3 separate regions of the Homo sapiens genome follow, and all the other regions are reported to be linked to region 1. Evidence: microRNA targets listed by miRTarBase, many of them from high-throughput screens and not tested one by one. Region 1 holds a microRNA gene; each other region holds the end of a gene's coding sequence.

What was found. The annotated mature microRNA hsa-miR-4668-3p reads GAAAAUCCUUUUUGUUUUUCCAG and lies in region 1 at 2,813-2,835, shown strand. An mRNA with a match to its seed (bases 2 to 7 or 8) in the 3' UTR can be bound and repressed. Matches are read on the target gene's strand: a 7mer-m8 pairs with bases 2 to 8, a 7mer-A1 pairs with bases 2 to 7 and ends in A, and an 8mer does both.
Region 2: miRTarBase lists ZNF792 as a target of hsa-miR-4668-3p. Seed matches in the 3' UTR shown: 7mer-m8 at 2,142-2,148 and 7mer-m8 at 2,168-2,174.
Region 3: the mRNA of GALNT5 is a reported target of hsa-miR-4668-3p. Seed matches in the 3' UTR shown: 7mer-m8 at 1,261-1,267, 7mer-m8 at 1,606-1,612 and 7mer-m8 at 3,226-3,232.

Annotation. Positions count from the first base shown.
Region 1 is chr9:111,929,335-111,934,566 of GRCh38, forward strand. It overlaps MIR4668 (microRNA 4668), which reads left to right and starts at 2,766; the gene lies at 2,766-2,835. It overlaps UGCG (UDP-glucose ceramide glucosyltransferase), which reads left to right. Exons shown (of 9, transcript NM_003358.3): 6 at 166-344; 7 at 1,937-2,023; 8 at 2,836-3,025; 9 at 3,493-5,232. The coding sequence ends at 3,663.
Region 2 is chr19:34,953,572-34,958,803 of GRCh38, reverse strand. It overlaps ZNF792 (zinc finger protein 792), which reads left to right. Exons shown (of 4, transcript NM_175872.5): 4 at 1-2,450. The coding sequence ends at 848. Among named protein-coding and RNA genes, the nearest start is that of ZNF792, 8.0 kb to the left of the region's middle.
Region 3 is chr2:157,310,504-157,315,735 of GRCh38, forward strand. It overlaps GALNT5 (polypeptide N-acetylgalactosaminyltransferase 5), which reads left to right. Exons shown (of 10, transcript NM_014568.3): 10 at 705-5,232. The coding sequence ends at 845. Among named protein-coding and RNA genes, the nearest start is that of ERMN, 13 kb to the right of the region's middle.

The DNA of each region.
Region 1 (5,232 bases):
ATGAAAGCAATATTGTCTACCACTTTTTATTCAGGTAGTCTACGTAAGAATAATAAGATATTCACTCAATCATACTTATAAAAAAACCATTGGGAAAAACAGTTCGTGAACACCATGCTTTTAACATGAAATTCTAATCATACACGTTTGTGGTTTTTTGGGCAGGTATATTTTGGAACTTCACATCCAAGATACTATATCTCTGCCAATGTAACTGGTTTCAAATGTGTGACAGGAATGTCTTGTTTAATGAGAAAAGATGTGTTGGATCAAGCAGGAGGACTTATAGCTTTTGCTCAGTACATTGCCGAAGATTACTTTATGGCCAAAGCGATAGCTGACCGGTAAGACAACTAAATGAAGCCATAGTATTTTTATTACCTAACTTCTGTTGGTTTATTCTTTTTGTTCAACCTATAGATTAGGGCTTTTTAATTTAATTTTATTTTTTTTGCTAGTAAGTACAGAATAGGTCAATAATTTTATTATTTTGTTTGTTTTTGAGACAGAGTCTTGCTCTGTCACCTAGGCTGGAGTGCAGTGGCGCGATCTTGGCTCACTGTAGCCTCTGCCTCCCGGGTTCAGGTGATTCTCATGCCTCAGCCACCAGAGCACCTGGGACTACAGGCATGTACCACCATGCACACTAATTTTTGTATTTTTAGTAGAGATGGGGTTTCTTCATGTTGGCCAGGCTGGTCTTGAACTCCTGAACTCAAGTGATCTGCCCACCTCGGCCTCCTAAAGTGCTGGGATTACAGGTATGAGCCACCACACCCAGCAGATCAATAATTTTATAGAGTAATTCATATTCTAATTATAGAATTGTAGATATGTACTAATGAAGAAGGTAAATGTTCTGATTCCTCTACATTTTTCAAATTAATGTGTTTTAAAGCGATTAAAAGTAAGTTTCTCTGTGTTTAGAATTTTTACTATATAGATACAAATTTCTGTGTTTTAGAAGAATTAAAACTATCAGTGCAGTCATAAACTAGTAGGTGAAAATTTAAAGACTATCATTTCAAAATTTGAAATTTGTCAGTGAATTATATGATACTTTGCTAAGAAGCCACTGAAAGATTCATATGACTGACTTAGCATTTCTCTATCACAAAATACTTGTTTTGTTTTGGTTTTTTTTTTTTTTTTTGAGACAGTCTCGCCCTGACATCCAGGCTGGAGTGCAGTGGCGCAATCTCGGCTCACTGCAGTCTCCGCCTCCTGGGTTCAAACGATTCTCCTGCCTCAGCCTCCCAAGTAGCTGGGATTATAGGCACCCGCCGCCACACTCAGCTACTTTTTTTTGTATGTTAGTAGAGGCGGGGTTTCACCATGTTGGCCAGGCTAGTCTTGAACTCCTGACCTCGTGATCCGCCCGCCTCAGCCTCCCAAAGTGCTGGGATTACAGGCATGAGCCACTGCATCCAGCCTAAAATACTTGTTTTTAAAGGAGATCACTGCCTTGTGTGAGAATTCTTTTAAATTTTTTAAAAACTGAAGTGTGTTTTAAATACAAATTCTGTCATGATTGTGTTCATGTGGTTCATGGTTTCCTAGTGTCTCCCATGAGATCCATAATGCCACTTTCTGTTTACATGTCTTGTTGTTTGGTTAGTAGTCATCAGAGACTAATCTATTAAATATGGAGCCCTCTCCATTTTTTTTCAAAATGACTGCATTTTAAGTTTCTTAAATTGTAAAGTAAGGTGGGTACAGTTTCTTCTAGTTCTTAGATGGTGCTGTCACGGGCCAGCATAATTGCTAAAACATCCATACGTATGGTAGACCTTAAGTCATGTGCTAATCATGAAAGCTGGGCTCACCCTGAATACCGGCAGTTGCCTGGTCTTTATAATGATTACTGAATGCATAACCAGTTACGCTTGCATGTGTTCATCATCATAACTTATTTTCTAATTATCTTAATTTTCAGAGGTTGGAGGTTTGCAATGTCCACTCAAGTTGCAATGCAAAACTCTGGCTCATATTCAATTTCTCAGTTTCAATCCAGAATGATCAGGTAAATCAACTGTTTTCTTTTTATACTTCGTTAAAAGGAAAGTGGGGAGGGGGGTGGTAATTTTTACAGGTTTAATGTAGTTAAATGAATGTACCTAAAGGTTGAAGATTTTTGTTTAGTTGCAGAAAATAGAGTTTAACGTCTGTGTTTAAGATAAATTTAATGTCTAAATGTATTTTATTTGCTGTATAACACTGAAAGCACTCATTAGAGAAATGTTGAGACTGAATTTTTTAATATGCTGATCTTTATTTTCTAACTTTCTGTGCTGATTAAATTTTATTATCTGTATTCATCAGAGCGTAGGCCATACAAATGAATTTAAAGACATTTTTCTTTGACATCCTAGACAAAAATAGAAAAGAGAGTCATTAAAAAAAATTTTTAGGTTGTGTGTGGTGGCTCACACCTGTAATCCCAGCGCTTTGGGAGGCCAAGGCGAGAGGACTGCTTGAGCCCAGGAGTTTGAGACCAGCCTGGGCAAAATGGTGAAACCCTGTCTCTACAAAAAATGCAAAAATTAGCCAGGTGTGGTGGCGTGTACACCTGTGGTCCCAGCTACTTGGTGGGATGAGGTGGGAAGATCGCTTGAGCCTGGGAGATTGAAGCTACAGTGAGTGCCACTGCACTCCAGCCTGGGTGACAGAGCAGAACCCCGTCTCAAGTAAAAAAAAAAAAACAAAACAAAAAAAGTTTAAAGAGAATGGTCTTTCTATCACAGGGTAAAAAAATTGATTATTTGAGGGAAAAAAAAAAGGATTTGTCTTGTAGCCAGGATATTGTTTTAAAGAAAATCCTTTTTGTTTTTCCAGGTGGACCAAACTACGAATTAACATGCTTCCTGCTACAATAATTTGTGAGCCAATTTCAGAATGCTTTGTTGCCAGTTTAATTATTGGATGGGCAGCCCACCATGTGTTCAGATGGGATATTATGGTATTTTTCATGTGTCATTGCCTGGCATGGTTTATATTTGACTACATTCAACTCAGGGGTGTCCAGGTATGTGGATAGGCATGAAAAGGTTGGCAGTCCCTTGGTGGAACTAGAACTATTTCAATTTAGAAAAAGTTGAAGGAAATGTATCTGAGCCATTCTTCAGCTTCCCATTGTAGGTTAGTCTCGGGTTTGAACATGACTTTCTCTAGTGGAATGTTGATGCAAAACTTAAGTCGATTTGCAACTTTCTATTGGTTATATAATCGCTTTTATTAAGTTTCCAAAAACATGAAGTTAATTAAATCAGTGAGTATTGAAACTAATAAGACATTAAGATAGCAGTTATTTTAATGCTTCATTAACAATTAGCATTTTCTTGAACGGTATAACATGGCAGTTAAATTACATAAGGAAGCAGACTTGATTTTACATAGTATACTTAGAAAAGTGAAATCCAAGAATTTAATTTTTTAACCTTGTCTTTAGTTTGACAGTGAGTGAAATTAAAAAATTTTTTTTTCCATTCCTAGGGTGGCACACTGTGTTTTTCAAAACTTGATTATGCAGTCGCCTGGTTCATCCGCGAATCCATGACAATATACATTTTTTTGTCTGCATTATGGGACCCAACTATAAGCTGGAGAACTGGTCGCTACAGATTACGCTGTGGGGGTACAGCAGAGGAAATCCTAGATGTATAACTACAGCTTTGTGACTGTATATAAAGGAAAAAAGAGAAGTATTATAAATTATGTTTATATAAATGCTTTTAAAAATCTACCTTCTGTAGTTTTATCACATGTATGTTTTGGTATCTGTTCTTTAATTTATTTTTGCATGGCACTTGCATCTGTGAAAAAAAAAAAAAACACATCTGTAGTCTTGGCCAAATGATACACTTTATTTTGTGGAAGTAGAGAATCAAGAGAATTGGTTCTAGGAACCTGGGTTCGTTCATCATTGTTGTTTATTTTTTTAAAATAAATAAATAAATATATATATAGATGCTCTGCAACAAACTCTGTGACAGTATCCTTCAGTAGAGAAAGTTTCTTACTTGTGAGTACACTCTTTTAGAACATTTACGGGTGGCAGCAGCTTTGCTTTAGAGTTTAGAAGATAATAGAAGGAATGACTATTCATGTCCAAAGTGAATGGTTTTGTGCAGTGAACAACACATGGCGAGGTACTAACTGAGAAACTTTTTCATGCTTTATGCCTACCTCTTGTAGTTGTTGCAGAGCAAATATAAATTGTAATAAGATAGCTAGGCCTTGCAGAAACAAACAGAAAAACTTAAAAAAAAATGATATAAGAGCTGGAGTCTAGTATTTATATGAATCTGTGAGAGATAATTTTTTTGGTCTCACTGCAATGAACCAAAAGCGGCTGAGTTTGGTTTTTAATTGTAGCCATGTATTGAAGGCATCTTTTTGACCAACTCTTGTTGGTTCTGTCTTGAACCATTGTTAATCACTGTGCTGTAATTAGTATAGCTAAATCTTTTCCTTCCTTGCTCCTCCCCCAGCCCACCCCGTCTTCCCTTAACATTTTTTCAGGGGGGGTTGGGAGTGGTTTCATTTTAGTGTGAGTGGATGTTTTGATAGTTGTAAGGAAAAAATGCATTTCAGACACATTTCACACATGAGCTATTTTCTTACACAGTATGTCTTATTGTTAATAAGAATGTAATTTCATGATACAAGTATTTAATACCTTTTTTAAGTCAGTAAATATTCTAGCCATCAATAAATTGCAGTAGAGTATTAAGAGGGGACAGGATGAGTTTACTCTTAAAATTAATCAGTATCAAACTAAGTCTACTGTGTGTGTTTTTTTTTTTTGTTTTTTGTTTTTGTTTGTTTACTATTATAGTAAGTCTAGTCTTATTTAAATTGGATTTTTGTATTCAAGTTTATATGACAAAATAGACTAGATCAGCGCTGGTTGTAAATGCATGCTGTACCTCACTGTTTTCTCCCCATCATGCCGCTAAACTTGCTCGCCAGGTTGTGCTTAACTTGTGGTGAACTGGACTTGATTCTGTTTTGTTTTGTTTTTTTAAAAAAAAAAAACAAAAATGTAAGGGACAGTGCATAAGCCTTTTCTTTGTTAAGTAGTGGTGTTTTGCTTTTTCTTCAGGATTGGATGGCATGTTGTCCACAGGAATGCCTACTGCAGGGCTAACACTGGCAATATGGCAGCTTTAAATTCTGAGTTACTACAGTCTCCATGTCAAAGCATAATGTGTAGCATATCAGCAATAACTA
Region 2 (5,232 bases), not on the chromosome of region 1:
CCAACCTCATTCAGCATAAGAGGGTTCACACTGGTGAAAAGCCATATGAGTGCAGCGACTGTGGGAAGTTCTTCAGCCAGCGTTCCAACCTCATTCATCATAAGAGGGTTCATACGGGCAGAAGTGCCCATGAGTGCAGTGAATGTGGGAAATCTTTCAACTGCAACTCCAGCCTAATTAAACATTGGAGAGTTCACACTGGAGAAAGACCTTACAAGTGTAACGAATGTGGGAAATTCTTCAGCCACATTGCCAGCCTCATTCAACATCAGATAGTTCACACTGGCGAGCGGCCTCACGGGTGTGGTGAGTGTGGGAAAGCCTTCAGCCGAAGCTCTGACCTCATGAAACATCAGCGAGTTCACACTGGTGAGCGGCCTTATGAATGCAATGAATGTGGGAAGTTATTTAGCCAGAGCTCCAGCCTCAATAGCCATCGGAGACTTCACACTGGTGAACGGCCTTACCAGTGCAGTGAATGTGGGAAATTCTTTAACCAAAGCTCCAGCCTCAATAACCACCGGAGACTTCACACCGGCGAGCGGCCTTATGAGTGCAGCGAATGTGGGAAAACCTTCAGGCAGAGGTCCAATCTGAGGCAGCACCTGAAAGTTCACAAACCAGACAGGCCTTACGAATGCAGCGAATGTGGGAAAGCCTTCAACCAAAGGCCTACCCTCATTCGGCATCAGAAGATTCACATCAGAGAAAGGAGCATGGAGAATGTGCTCCTTCCCTGTTCACAGCACACACCAGAGATAAGCTCTGAGAACAGACCTTATCAGGGCGCTGTCAACTACAAGTTGAAACTTGTTCATCCAAGTACCCACCCTGGGGAGGTTCCCTAGGAATGCTAGCTGTGTTGGAAGCTTTCTGGAGACAAGTTACATTCTCTTACTGTAGAGTTTATCAGCGTTTTTTCACTGCTGGGGTTGTGATAGAAGCCATGTCAGCACCACACACTGCAGCTCTCCAAAGAGTGTGTCCACCACTCCACTGTGCTCAGGGAAGGCAGACCTCTCCTCTCTCTTTCCAATCCCTAAAGGGAATTAGGAGTAGTCTGAAGCCTTGGGAAGATGTCATTCCCGCCCTGTATGGCTGGTTTAGCCATGGACATGACCAGCTTTTGGCTGTGAAGACCTGAGCAGGGTTTTGCCAACAGCTTGTTCTAGAGAAGGTTTCCCTTTTTCTGGGACATTGTTGGTCTCATGTTATGCCTGTGAAGGATTTGTCCAGCCTTCATGTTACTCTACACAACAACTTATCTCCTGTGTATTGCCCTGGTTCATGTGATGATAATGGCCTTATGATAAAGCCGCCTTTAGTCTTCCATGTTCTGATCACTGTGTGGGGTGGTTCAAGAGCAGAGTTAAGATCTACCAAACTGAAGGGGTCTCCAGATTATCTTGGAGGGGACAGGAGGATGGCAGAGAAACAACTGTCAATCCAGATTTGACCTCATTTGCATTGCCACCAAGGCCTCCTAGGAAAAATTGTAGGAATTTATGGGTATAATATTGTGGTCTGAATGGCGTGAATTTTTATCCCGAGGAGGGGGCAGTTGTGACAACCTCCAGTGCATGTGGGAACAGCATGAATTGGGTCCCTTATTCCCAGGGGGTGCCCCATATTCCCCAATACTGTAAAGCAGATGCTGTTTAGCACCTGCCAAGGAGCCATATGCCCTGAAGTTCAGCATTAGGCAGGTATCTCTTAACTGTAAGACATACCAGGCCCAGCTGGGACCATAATTTGTACAGAAACACTGGATGTGATTAATAGGGAGTAGGCGAGATTATAGCAAACCAGCAGAAATGGAACTCTGCTAAATGTGCATCCGTGAATGCTCCCTTGAATGTGGCTGTGCAGGATTCAGGGTTTGCAGAAATTCTCAGGACCTCAGACCTCTGTCCTATGACTAATGTTACTGGCAGAGCAAATAATCTAAAGGTTTTGGTTTTGTGGATTACCATCTCCGTGCTGTGCATCTGAAGGCCAGTGCTGTGCTGGCAGGAAAATAGGGACTGAGAAAAAGCAGATCCTATACTATAGGGACTGTAGTATCTATGACGTAGCCAGCCATTCTTTGCTCCCAAGGCAAGAAGAAAGAGATGACAGAGTCAATATAGGGTTGCCAAATCGGATTTTCTAAAATGAGTAGGAAGTTGGATTTTTATGTGCAACAGTTTCTTTTAATGCTTTGTTGATATGTGATTGTCATGCAATAATTATTCATATTTGGTAAGTTTTGTACATATATTATGTACACTCAGGGAACCAATACCATAATCATGATAATGAACGTATCCATCACCTGCAAAGCTACCTCATGCCCCTTTACATTCCCTCCTTGCCTTCCCTAGGAAACCGTTGATTTACATTTTTTACTTTAGATTTGTTTGCCTTTTCTAGAATTAACACAATTGGAATCATAAAGTATTTATACTCTCTTTTGGTCTGGTTTCTTTCATGCAGCATAATTATCTTGAGAATCATCCATGCTGTGTGTATATATAGTTCATTCCTTTTACTACTGAGTAGTGCTATACTGGGTGAGTGCACCATAGTTTTTTATGGTTTATTTAAAAATGTTAAAAAAATCTGATGAAATATACTTAACATGAAATTTACTATCCTAACCATTTTTAGTGTATACTTCAATGGTATTAAGTAGATTCGTATTGTTATGTAACCATCACCACCATTCGTCTCCAGAACTCTTCAATCTTGCAAAACTGAAATTCTGTACCTGTCAAGCAATAACTTCCCATTTTCCCTTCCCCAGCCCCTCAAAACCACCATTCTACTTCCTGTCTGTATGAATTTGACCACTCTAGGTACCTCATATAAGTAGAATAATAAGTATTTGTCTTTTTGTAGCTAGCTTATTTCACACTTAGCATAATATTCTCAAGGTTCATCAATGTTGGAGCATATGTCAGAATTTCCTTTTTAGGGCTGATTAGTATTTCCTTGTATGTGCTGCATTTTGCTTCTCTATCATGTGTCAATGGATACTTGGGGTGCCTCCACCTTTTGCCTATTTCGAATAATGCTGCTCTGAACCTGAGTGCACAACAAATATCTATTCAAGACCCTACTTTCAACTCTTTTGGGTATATGCTCAGAAGTAGAATTACTAGATGATATAGTAAATCTATTTTTAGTTTTTTGAGGACCTGACATACACTGTTTTCCACAGAACTGCACCCTTTCACATTCTTACCAACAATAAACAAAGTTTAAAATTTTTCAGAGCCGGGTGTGGTGGCTCATGCCTGTAATCCCAGCACTTTGGGAGGCTGAGGCAGGTGGATCACGAGGTCAGGAGATCGAGACCATCCTGGCTAACACGGTGAAACCCCATCTCTACTAAAAATACAAAAAATTAGCTGGGCGTGGTGGCAGGCGCCTGTAGTCCCAGCTACTTGGGAGGCTGAGGCAGGAGAATGGTGTGAACCCAGGAGGCGGAGCTTGCAGTGAGCCGAGATCACGCCACTGCACTCCAGCCTGGGCAGCAGAGTGAGACTCCCTCTCAAAAAAAAAAAAAAAAAATTTGTTTTCCTACATCCTCACCAGCACTTGTTTTTGTTTTTTTTGGTGGTAGCCATTCTAATGGGTGTGAAGTAGTATCTTATTTGATATGCTTTCCCTAATGATTTGTGACTTTAAGTATCATTTCATGTGCTTACTGGCCATTTGTATATCTTTGGGGAAATTTCTATTCAAGTATTTTCTCCATTTTTTTTTCACTCACCCCTCCTTATCTCCATTTTTTTTTTTTTTTTCTGAGATGGAGTCTCGCTCTGTCGCCCAGGCTGGAGTGCAGTGGCGCGATCGGCTCACTGCAAGCTCTGCCTCCCGGGTTCACGCCATCCTCCTGCCTCAGCCTCCCGAGTAGCTGGGACTACAGGCACCTGCCACCACGCCCAGCTAATTTTTTGTATTTTTAGTAGAGATGGGGTTTCACCATGTTAGCCAGGATGGTCTCGATCTCCTGACCTCGTGATCTGCCCGCCTCCGCCTCCCAAAATGCTGGGATTACAGGCATGAGCCACTGCGCCCGGCTTCTTATTTCCATTTTTGAATTGGGTTGTTTTGTTGTTGAGTTTTACAACTTTTCTGTATATTCTGGGTACTAATCCTTTATCAGATATTTTCTCCCATTCTGTGGACCGTTTTACTCTGTTCATAGTGTCCGTTGATCAGAAAATTTTAAATTTTCATGAGGTTCAATTTGTCTATGTTTTCTTTTGGTGTCTTTGCCTTTGGTGTCATATATAAGGAACCATTGCCACCTATGTCTCTAAGAGTTTTTATAGTTTTAGCTCTTACATCTAGGTCTTTGATTCATTTTGAGTCACTTTTTGGAGTTCATTTTTGTGTATGGTGTTAGGTAAGGGTCCAGCTTCACTGTTTTGCATGTGGATATCCCATTTTCCTAACACCATTTGTTCAAAAGACTGTCTTTTCCCCATTGGTTGGTCTTGGCACTCCTGTCAAAAATCATTTGAGCATATATGTGAGGGTTTACTTCTGAGCTCCATTTTAATTCTGTTGGTGTGTATGTCTGTCCTTACACCAGTTTCATGCTGTTTTAATTACTGTAGCTTTGTAGTAAGTTTTAAAATTAGGAAGTGTGAGACCTTCAACTTTGTTCTTTTTCAATATTCTTTTGGCTGTTCAGGATCCCTTGAGATTCCATATTAATTTTAGAATGGATCTTTATATTTCTGCACAAGATATTATTGGGATTCCATTAAATCTATTGATCACTTTGGGTGGTATTGACATCTTAATAATATTAAGTTACCCAATCTGTGAATATGGAATTTCATTCCATTATTTATGTCTTTGCTTTCTTTCAGGAGTGTTTTGTAGTTTTCATTGTACAAGTTTTCACCTCCTTGGTTAATTCCTAAGCATTCTATTACTTTTGATGCTAATGTAAATGGAACTGTTTTCATGATTTCCTTTTCAGATTGTTCATTGTTAGTGTATGGAAATGTAAGTCATTTTTCTGTGTTGATTTTTTTTATCCTGCTAGTTTGCTGAATTCATTTATTAATTTTAAGTCTTTGTGTGTGTGTGTGTGTGAAAACTTTAGAATTATCTACATATAATATCACCTGGGATCAGAAATAATTTCACTTCTTCCTTTCCAATTTGGCTGCCTTTTACTTCTTTTCTTCCATAATTACTCTGGCTAGGACTTCCAGTACCATGTTGAAC
Region 3 (5,232 bases), not on the chromosome of region 1:
TGTTTGATAACTTTTTAAAGTTTAAAAACAACATGTGTAATTAAGATTGTCTTTGTCATAGTCATACGTAATTAAGAAAATTTATAGATGAAAAAATATATAAGCCATTAGTAAGGTCTATCTAATTTATCTACCATTTCTAGGATATTCACTAAATATTAAGCAATAATATAACTTTCTTTAATGCTGTTGACTTTTTCCTAATCTGGATTTTGGACATCAGTTATTATGAATTGTCAGAGATTATGGTAAGGAGCTCATAAATAAAATACATCACTTCCAGAATTTTGTAATCCAAACTCACAAAGACACCTACTTTAAAAATTAATTAACTTTTTGTTACGGTATGTATTCTTTCTTTACCATCAATGAAGTAGTTATCATCTATCAAATCCAATAAATGTCATCTGTAATGTTTTCTCTTTAAAGAGTATAGTTCTCAGCCATATCATCAAGAAATTTTTCTTTTGCCTCCTGAGGACTTAAAAGTCTTATAGCTTGGTGGAGGATGATTACTTAGTCTGAGACAGAGACAAATTTAATACTTTTCAAAGTCTGTGTTTATGTTAATAATTTAGTTCAGAAGAATTCTTAAAAATCAAAAATATAACTGCCTGTCCATTTTTTTAATTGATTTTCATTTCTTCATATTGCAGTTATCAAATTCAGCCTGTGGCTCATTCCCAGCTCTTCTTTCTCTCCAGGTGAATCACATTGTTTTTGAAAACAATCAGCAATTATTATGCTTGGAAGGAAATTTTTCTCAAAAGATCCTGAAAGTAGCTGCCTGTGACCCAGTGAAGCCATATCAAAAGTGGAAATTTGAAAAATATTATGAAGCCTGAAGTGTAACTGATGTTTTTATATAGTAAACCCATTAAATACTGTGAAAATAACACTGAACTTGGAAACTATATTTCTCAGCGGTAGTTTAAATTTTCAATTTTAATAACATTTGAATGGAAGATTTTTTATAAATCACAATATTTGGAATACCAAAAGATGACTCAGGAAAACAGTCCAACATTGGACTGAAGTCCTTCTTCGGAACTGGGTGGCCTTTGAATTGCCTGCTTTCCACCCTATGCTAGACCTCATCATGCAAATTTCCCTGTGAAAGCTAACAGGTAACTGGAAATGAAGACAGAAGGACTTGAGAAAGCATGAGGATATTCCCAATGACTATGTTTGGTAATAATCAGCTCTTCTGGCCCACAAGTAGGAATGATCAATGAGAACTTAACTTAGTCCTTTATTTGGGGATTTTTTCATCAAACAAAAATTTCTTGAGTTCTTATGGCTAGAAGACCTCAGATGCCCACAGCTGTCACGTTTGTGAAATCCCTCCAGACTACATGCATGCTTACCTAACAGTTTGAAATAGTATTGATCTACTGCTGGTAACCCTGCTTGATGGCAGCATTTTGATCTAAATTACATAATGGTTTTTCCCAATCTGAATCAGTGGAAAAAAATTTAAGTGAGGAAGAAGAGGCCTTCAAATGCTTATTTAATTCTAGGTATGAACACTATTTCAGTTCATTTTGTGCTTTTAAAACTACAGTTTTAAAGATTTATGATACCAATAACTTCCTAGATTCATGTGGATTTTTTTTAAGGCAATGAAAAAAGGCTGGATTATAACACACTGTAGTAATCAAAAATGCATTTAAGCATTGAATGCACTCTAGTGCAGGGCCAAGTAAGAGGAGTTGAAATGAGTAAAGCAGAAATAGAGCTGCTGAAAGTTTCTTTTATATAAAAATAATAAAATACTACTTTAGATATAGTAGCATTCACAGGGATGAAATATGCGAAAAATGGGTTCTAAAATATTTCAAAGGGAAAATGAAGTGAAGGAAACATCATGAAAGGGGAAAGGAATGAGGTAAACAAGTCTTAGGAAGAGAGTTAAGAAAAAATTCCGCTGGACTTGGCCAAAGAAAGAAGGGGATCTAGTATCTCTATGAAGGAAAAAAGAGTAAAGCCCTCAGTGTGAACCCAGTGAGAACACTGACAAATTTGGGAAAAGTTAAATACTGATTTCATCCAAATAAAGCCTCTAATCTTAAGCATACCAATACTTTGGCATACCAGAAGACACCTTAGAAATCAGGATAGCCTTTGCATTCATTTTGGTAAGAAAACTGATGCTGAGAGGATAAATTACCTAAAAATCTTAAAACCCAGGCAAGTTAGTCAAAGAATCAAGATTAGAATTCAGGTTTCCAGAGACAGGGCTCATTCTAATGCCTCAGGTCACTGGCCCGAACAAATCTGCTTCACAGAATTCCTTAGAAAGAGATACACAATTCTTTGCTGGGATTGGGTCCCTGGAGGACAACCATACTATATTCTTGTTAATATGTTTTTTCTTTTTTTAAATTTAAACTTTTGTTCAGTTGAGATGATTGTGAAACTAGGTATCTTTCATTCTGACTCCTAGTTTAACATTTAATTTTGACTCCCAATGAGTTACGTAAAAGCAAAACTATAACTAAGAATGGGAAAAAGAACTATTTCTGCACATTTGTAACATATTTAAGATGTTTTCTTCATATAATTGAAAACTGCAGATGAGTAAGAGAATGACTAGGAAATGAGATACAGTTATATGACACATAATGATGTTTTAGTCAACAATGAACCACATATTTGACATTGGTCCCAAAAGATTATATTAATAATATGGTATCTTTAGTGTGCTTTTCTATGTTTAGACACACAAATACTCACCATGATGTTACAATAGCCTACAGTGTTCAATACAGTAACATGCACAAGTTTGTAACCTAGGAGCAACAGGGATTCCATATAGCCTAGGTGTGTAGTAGGCTACCTACACCATCTAGGTTTGTGTAAGTACACTCTGATATTCACACAATGATGAAATTGCCTAATGACACATTTCTCAGAATGTATTTGTGTTATTAAATGATGCATGACTCTAATTCTTTTCAAAACAGAGCCATATGGGGCAAGGGGGATGGGGGGACGCAAGTCAGTTGTCAAAAGACTAATTGAGTTACTGACAAACTGAACATGCTAGGTGCCTCATGTAATTCTTCATGTAACTAAAAAATGTTGAGAGGTTTTTTTCCCCCGGGTATATAGGCTCTCTTTTTATCCGAAAATAGTTTCCACAAAGAAGTCAACTCTGTTCTGAAAAAAAATGAATTGCATTTTGAATACACTTATCTTTGGGTATATCAACTAAAGGAAGTTGGATTTTTTTCCTTAACAGAAACTTCTGCAGTCCTCTCAGTTCACATCCTTTCTGACTTTACCCTGACAAACTTATTATATAAAGCTATATTTAAATCTATATTGTCAATATAACAAAGGATTGTTTTTGAACATCACAAATTTGTTCTTGGATAGAATTTTATACATTGCTTTTCATCATATATTTGCTCAGTTACTCTAAGAAGCAAGGAACTGATCACTAGTTGGGAATCTATATGGGCCTAAACTTGAGTGTATTGATTTATTATTACATCTACTACCAACATTTTCTTAAGCATAGCCTTCTAAATTTTTTCAGGAGATTAGAATAAAGGTATACATGCTACTCGGTCTTCTGGTAATTCTAGTGATAAACCTTTGGATGAGACAGGTCCTAATCAGCACTGAATTCTTCAATAGGAGGCTGTGTTACAGGAGCTACAGATTTTTCCCTGGATTAGCTTAGGTCATTGCCTTTACTTTAAAAAAAAAAAAAAAAAGTCTATGCATCTTGTTACCTTGAATACAAGGGTGGTCTTGATAATATTTGACAGCACTAACCAACTTACCAAGCCATCTAAGTGCTTCTGAGACTTTTCAGTTTGCACAATTTCTTTCTCCTTTTCAACAGTTACCCAGCGCTTCTGCCCTACTCTCTTGTAAGCTGACACAGTTGTTGTTGGTACAATCTTGTTCTATCACCAGCATCAAATTTGCTTAATACTGCTTGTTGACATCCCCTCAGCTGTCATTCACAGCAAACCACCATGTGCCATGATCACAATGTATTATTAGCTTCGCCACACTAATTTGGAAACATTCTTTTAGATATTAAAACACCTTACTTCTAGTATTAGTTTGGGACTGCAGAGGGGCAAAGATACCATTTACAGTATATAGGAGTCCAATATTCCCAACCAACCTTGATTTCATGAATGGCTTGTAATTATTTCTAGCAGGCACTCATGCAATAGAATAAGATTGAAACATGCCAGAGAGTACCATCTTTCTTTGTTTTAACATCTCTGATTGAATTCCTATATTCAGAATACAAGAAAAAAAATTTACCAACCAGGCGCAGTGGCTCACACCTGTAATCCTAGCACTTTAGGAGGCCAAGGTGGGTGGATCATGAGGTCAGGAGTTCAAGACCAGCCTGGGCAACATGGTGAAACCCCGTCTCTACTAAAAATACAAAAATTAGCTGGGCATGGTGGTGGGCGCCTGTAATCCCAGCTACCTGGGAGGCTGAAGCAGGAGAATTGCTTGTACCCGGGAGGTGGAGGTTGCAGTGAGCTGAAATTGCGCCACTGCACTCCAGCCTAGACAACAGAGCAAGACTCTATCTCAAAAAATAATAATAATAATTTTTACCTCAGAAGAAAGCCCCAAAATCTTGGATTAAAACAAAAAAATGACATTGGGTGATGGGAAAAAAGAAAGGAACTAATTATCATTGAGTGTGTGTAGGTACTATTTGTGTAGGTGCTATATGTGTCCCATCTCACTGATGGGTACAACTCATCAAATGACTCTCATTCTCCCTGTTATATGAACAAGAAGGATAACTCCCACATACAGATGAGGAATTTGGTAAATTGCCCAAGGTCATCCCACAAGTAAGAGATAAAACCCAGTTTCCATTTTATCTGGCTCAAAAAAAATTTCTCTCACTATACCATGCTGCTATATAATTAATTTTCTTCTTTACAAAGGGCTGTCATCTCAGGTGGGTGCATTTAAAAGTTTCTTGGTCTCAGATTACTGATGCCACAGTATTGAGATGAGATTGAATTAAACCCCTTTGGCCTCTTTTGGATGTTGTATAAACAGAAAAAAGAAGCATGGTCTCTCTCTCTCTGTGGTAACCAATTGATGTGTAGGTATAAACATGGCTACCCCCACATGTTTTGCTGTGATCTATCTCTTTGACTTCATGCAGAACCTATTCTTTTTCATCTCCTGGACCAAATGTGAAAGAAAGAAGTGGACATGTGGAGGATTCTT